Regions from separate parts of the Homo sapiens genome. Here region 2 is linked to region 1. Evidence: fine-mapped expression QTL. A gene starts in region 1. The other region holds a variant in brackets. All regions are shown on one strand. Distances are between the middles of the regions.

Region 1 (2,909 bases):
AAGGAAAAGAAGGCACCAGAGTCTAGTGCCTTTGCCGCCAAACCTAAACCTATAAGGTTGGCAGCAAAACCAAAGCACAAACTGATAACAAAGGAGGTAAAGCCAGGGGAGAAGAAACTGAAGACGTCAAAGACAGAAATGAAGCACATCATCTGGTTTAAAACAAATGATAGAGTTTTTACAGTTCTGGAAAATGACCGTATAATATTCTCTGCTAAGAAGAATAACTTCTGCTAAACAACCATAAGACTGCAGCTGGCTCTACTCAGATCTGCTTATTCCAACAAGACCAAGGTGCTAGTTCTAACTTCGAGTTGTCCCTCTGTATGGCTGCAGCGTTGCGCACAGTGGACTGCCGGTCACAAGGAAGACTGGATGAGCGTGGGTTCACACAACATTTCCCACACTTGCCTCAGCAAAAGAACCACCTGGGACACTTGTTTAAAAATGACAGATTCCCACGGTCCACCTCGGCAGATTCTGATCCTGCCACTCCAGGGAGCTGTATTTTTCAACAAGTACACCAGGTGATCACGCAAGTTTAAGAAATTAACACAAGTTGGCCGAGCGCAGTGGCTCACGCCTGTAATCCCAGCACTTTGGGAGGCTGAGGCGGGAGAATCACGAGGTCAGGAGTTCGAGACCAGCCTGGCCAACATAGTGAAACCCCGTCTCTACTAAAAACACAAAAATTAGCCGGGCGTGGTGGCGCACACCTGTATTCCCAGCTACTTGGGAGGCTGAGGCAGGAGAATTGCTTGAACCCAGGAGGCAGAGGTTGCAGTGAGCCGAGATCGCGCCACTGCACTCCCGCCTGGGCGACAGAGTGAAACTCTGTCTCGGAAAAAAGAAAAAAAAAGAAAAAAGAAATTAACACAAGTCCCTGCCACTGGAAAAGCTTATCCGTCAGGCTGGCTCCTCCTCCACCACCAGACCCCATCCCGGTACATCACGTTTACATGCATGCGGAAAATGGGCTTGGAGATTCTTGATTCAAATCCGAGGTATCACACATCGGCCCCCAAAGGTCAAACATTAAGAAGGAAGCTTACTGCCCTGTCCCAGATTTTTCTAGGTGACTTCTTCCTCCGGACTCTGCAGCAGTCTTTAGTTCTAAAAGCACAAGCGGACCGCACGTCTCAACGCGGGAAAACAGTTCCATCTGCAGGGATGGAGGACCGGGCTAGACAAGCTGGAGTTGGCTCTGCGCCGCAGGGGTGTGCAAGCCCGAGACGGGGGAGCCCGAGGTCACCCCGGCCGCCCTGGCATCGGGGCTGAAGTGCAGGCTCCTGGAGGAGCGGTGCGCACGCCCAGGGGTAGCCGAGAACACAAGCCAAGGCACGAGCGGACAACCTTACGGGGACGAGTACTGGCGCCCGGACGCGACTTCGCGAGAGGCCAGGCGGAACCCACTGGAAGCGTGAGCTAGCGGGGACCACCCCCGGGCGAAACCAAAGGAGAAAGAGGGGAACCCAGGGGTCCCGGGGCGCTTAGGCCCGCGCGGACGGGGAGGCCAGAGTTGCCCCGAAGCTATCTCCTTACCTCACCGGTCCCCACGGGCTCCGCGCTCAGCTACAGCCCGGCGGGAGCAATGCGGCAGCCACAACAGTTGCCTGGGGTCGCCGCGGGCCGGAAAGCGGGGTTCGGGGATGGGAAGGGGGCGGGGCGAAGCGAGCAAAAAGTTCCGGGGAAGCCGAGACCGCGACCTTCCGCGCTTTACGGCCCCCGGGCAAGGGTACTGCCGGCGCGTGACCTCAGCAGCGCACGAGCGCGCCGTGACGCCTTCGCGGAGCCCCGCCCCTGCCACGTGGGCTTGTTTGGGTCTCGCGAGGCACCGCCCCCGCGGCCTCTTTGCCACCCTCAGAGGCGAGCTGTGGAAGCCTTGACTCTTAGGGCCGTTTTAGAACCGGGGCCTCGGACCGGCGGGGTTTCTGCACGTGGAACCGGAACATCTGAGATGATCGCAGGCCCTGTGGAGTGTGGGGAGCGCGGGAGTTCTTTCTTCCCTCGAGGCCCGTGCCAGGGCTTACTCCAAAGCCAGTGGGTCCCCAGTCCTAAGCCAAGCAGTCCCGGGGGAAAACGCTTCTCATCGCCGTGGGAGCGCGGATCTTGGAAGTGGCTCTGGGCTTTCTTGGGCGAGGCTCTCACAGAGTAGATCGGAAATCCATTCTGCTGGCCCGCCCCACCTCGGAGGACGGACTAACGGACCTGAGTTCCCGGCCCTATCTTACTCTTCTCAGCTTCTCAGCTTGGCTCAGCTCAGAGGAAGAGGAATCACTGAAGTCTCAGAGAAGTCTCCACTCATCCCTTCCTCACTGTCACATCAGCCTTTTCTTTCCTTCTAGAACTCATCACTGACTCAAGGATATAAGTTTGATGACTGTCTTTTCCACTGGTGTGACACGATCTCTGTCGACAGAACCTTAGTCTTATGCATAGCTTTATTCTCAGCACCCAGAACAGTGCCTGGCACCTCTTCCACTGAATATTATATGCATAAGGGTCTCATGCTGCAGCCACCATTGCATCTTGGGCCACACTATCCAGTTCCCGTTTGTTGGATTCAATACTGTCTCACCACACAAACCAATCTTGTGTTTTATTAATTTAAAAAAAATTTTTTTTTTGTAGAGATAGGCTCACTATGTTGCCTAGGCTGGGCCTGAACTCCTGGCCTCAAGTGATCCTTCCATCTCAGCCTCCCAAAGTCCTGGGATTACAGGCGTGAGCCACTGTGCCTGCCCCAATCTTGTGTTTTATTGCTGGCCACCTGTAGCCAGGCACTGTGCAGGATGATGGGATCCAGCAATGTACAAGAAAGAGGCGGTTTCTGCTCTTAGGGAGTGGCAGTCAAGTTCCAGGGACCCCTCTGTCACAAGGCCAGGCCACAGCCTACATAGTTTATACCC
Region 2 (2,909 bases), 47 kb before region 1:
GGAGGCCAAGGTGGGTGGATCACTTGAGGTTGGGGGTTTGAGACCAGCCTGGCCAACCTGGCGAAACCCCGTCTCTACGAAAATACAAAAATTAGCTGGGCATGGTGGCGCGTGCCTGTAATCCCAGCTACTCTGGAGGCTAAGGCAGGAAATCACTTGAACCTGGGAGTGGAGGTTGCAGTAAGCCAAGATCACACCACTGTACTCCAGCCTGGGCAAAAGAGCAAGACTCTGCCTCAAAAAAAAAAATTAGTGAACAGGTCAAGTCCAGGGACCAACTTGTGGATGGAAGCTGGTGTAGAAAAAGAGCACTGGTTGTTTCTCTCAGGGTTGTTTCCACAGGGTGAGAACACGACCCCCCTTGCTTTCCACACAAACCTGAGTGCACACGTGCCCGTGTGGAACATCAGGTGGCAGGTTCCTCCTGAGGTCAGCTGTAGGCAGAAGGCCGGTCGGAATTTCAGGAGGCGGGAAGCTTTTACCCCCAGCCACTCCAGCGCTGCAGGGAGGGTAAGATAAACACCTACATCTTCTCTACCCCCGTCCCCAAATCCTCCCTCACACTGGTACACACAGGGAGGTACACACTCTCCTCTGCACGCTGTTTATGCTTTGTGGTGGCAAACACATTTAAGTCACTACAGATGAAGAACATTTCACAAGCAGCCGTGCAAGAGTAGTTAAAATGTGTTTATTCATTTACAAACCCAGTAACATGAGAAGAAACTCAGTGGAAACCTTGCTTGGTGGAGACAGTGCACAGTGTTAGTGCCACATTCACAGGGGCAGAAATGCTCGGTCACCCTGTGCACCCAAAGTCACCCAGGATCTCTAGAAAAGATCCCACTTACTGAAGTGCCTCGGATGTCTTCAGGGCCAGATTGTAACTACACAGGAACAGGGAAGGGCTAAGCTGAACTGCAAATTGACAAACACAAACGATGAGTCACAGGACTCTACAGTAGTTACAATGGCATTTTTATATGTCCCAAGTGTTGACTGGAGAGTAAAGTGTTAACTGAGCTGCTAGAACACCCTTCACTGAAAGAGCTTTCTACCCCACGCCCATTGTTCCGAAGAAGGAGAGGCTATGTGGGGCGGATGGGAACCCACACACCGAGATGAACTTTTCTCTTTCTTCCAATCTGCACCCACCATCTGACATTCTGGAGTGTAAGGCACTAGAACCTGGCTTAGAGAATAGTGGGGCTCTAAGCTCCAGTTCTTGGTGTGCAAAGGAAATTCTGACATACATCTTTTGAAAGAGATGCTAAAAAACCCTCCCTATCTCCTGTAATTTCTGTCTTTGACAGACAGGAAAATAAGAAGGCAGAAGATGGTCTGCAAAGGATAAAAACAGGTGCATCTAAGAATGAGAAAAATGGCTCATGAAGAAATGTGTAACTCTCCAAGAGATGCAGACACTCTGCTCAGAGAAGTCAAGAACCATAAACAACTCTTCATGTTTCATGGACAAAGGGAAGGCAAAGGCATACAAAAATACTCAGTTGTCTTGAAAAGTGTACTGGTAGTGATCAGGGCTACAAAGGC[G/A]AGCCCTGTACTGACAATGGAGGAGCCTTACAACTCAGCACCTTAAATTGTTGGCCTGAAGTGGTGGCGGGGAGGGAGGCGCTGACGGAGAGACCCATGGCTCACCACTTATTGCGTGTACACAAGGCCTGGGGCAAGCCTCACAAGTCTACCATTTCTTCCACTCAACTGTGCTTCTCCTGAATCCATGTGCCTGAAATGACATATGCAAGGTGAACATTCTTTATACTGTGTTAATACTGCTTATATCAATGTTCGTGAGGGGTGTGTGGGGGATGGGGTGCAGCAGGAAAATTAGAATGGCAGGAGGTTCTTATTTATTATTAAGCACTGTTGACCAAACCTCTATCTTAGATTTTTTTTTTTTTTTTTTTGAGACAAGAGTCTCACTCTGTTACCCAGGCTGGAGTGCAGTGGTGCAATCTCAGCTCACTGCAACCTCTGCCTCCTGGGTTCAAGCAATTCTCCCACCTCACTGGGCCTCCCAAAGTGCTGGGATTACAGGAGTAAGCGACCACGCCCGGCCAACCAAACCTCTATCTTAGATGTTAAAGAAGACCCTTATTGACTACACTGGCCAAGAAGCAACAGAGATATAAAGCTGAATCTTGTAGCTAACCCCTGAAAGCAAGCCAACGCAAATTCCTCCGCCAGGCCAGTCTTCTAGTGCCAATATGGAGACTGTGGGCCACAGAAGATTCCCTTCTATTTCAGGTTCTCAAAAAGTGGTGTAGACTCAGGCAAATGCCAGGAAATGTGTCCATATGCCAGAGGAGACACAGAGCCAGAAATGAAGGCTATGGGTCCTGTCTTCAGTGAAACACTGAACGCTCTCGGAAAGCTCCCATCATTCTTGCATCGCTACTGCCACCAAGACGGTGGCAAGGGAGGAGGCTAACTTTCAAATGCATGCAACGGCAGGTAATATACTGTGGAAGCTGGAGGTTTACTTTTCATGTTTTAGTTACTTTCTTGCAAACAGCAGTCCAGGAAAGCAAGCAAGCAGGTAAAACTCCGGGTGTGCATGAGGAGATGATCCAAGGCCAGTGGGCCTCCCAGTGAGAACCAAACAGGAGTGGCCAGGCTCCACTCCTGGGGCCAGAGTGAAACCGGGGTTTAATCACTGGGCTATGTGGTCTCTGTGTCTCTGGCCTGAATGAGATCTCTTCAATGTCGGGGGACAGGGATCCCTGGAAGAGCGTGAAAAATACAGTGGTCACTGTGCAGTTCTCTCTGCTGGAGCCTGTCCTGCCATCATACAAGGTGCTGTGACAGCAATGCAAGGTGAAAGGAGATCAAATGGCCCAGCTCAGCAGTTAGTGTTTGTCCCTTTTTGCTCTTCAGAGTTCCTGAATGAG

What was found.
Region 2: its variant is fine-mapped to the expression of PDPR in lymphoblastoid cells (GEUVADIS, PIP 0.95).

The regions. Positions count from the first base shown.
Region 1 is chr16:70,113,074-70,115,982 of GRCh38, reverse strand. It overlaps PDPR (pyruvate dehydrogenase phosphatase regulatory subunit), which reads right to left and starts at 1,651. Exons shown (of 19, transcript NM_017990.5): 1 at 1,543-1,651; 2 at 1,053-1,162. RefSeq lists enhancers at 175-1,117, 1,638-1,687.
Region 2 is chr16:70,160,298-70,163,206 of GRCh38, reverse strand. PDPR (pyruvate dehydrogenase phosphatase regulatory subunit) reads right to left here. Exons shown (of 19, transcript NM_017990.5): 19 at 670-2,909. The region is part of intron 1 of LOC400541 (a long non-coding RNA gene); the gene reads left to right. Among named protein-coding and RNA genes, the nearest start is that of CLEC18C, 12 kb to the left of the region's middle. The variant G/A (reference allele first, on the strand shown) is at 1,552.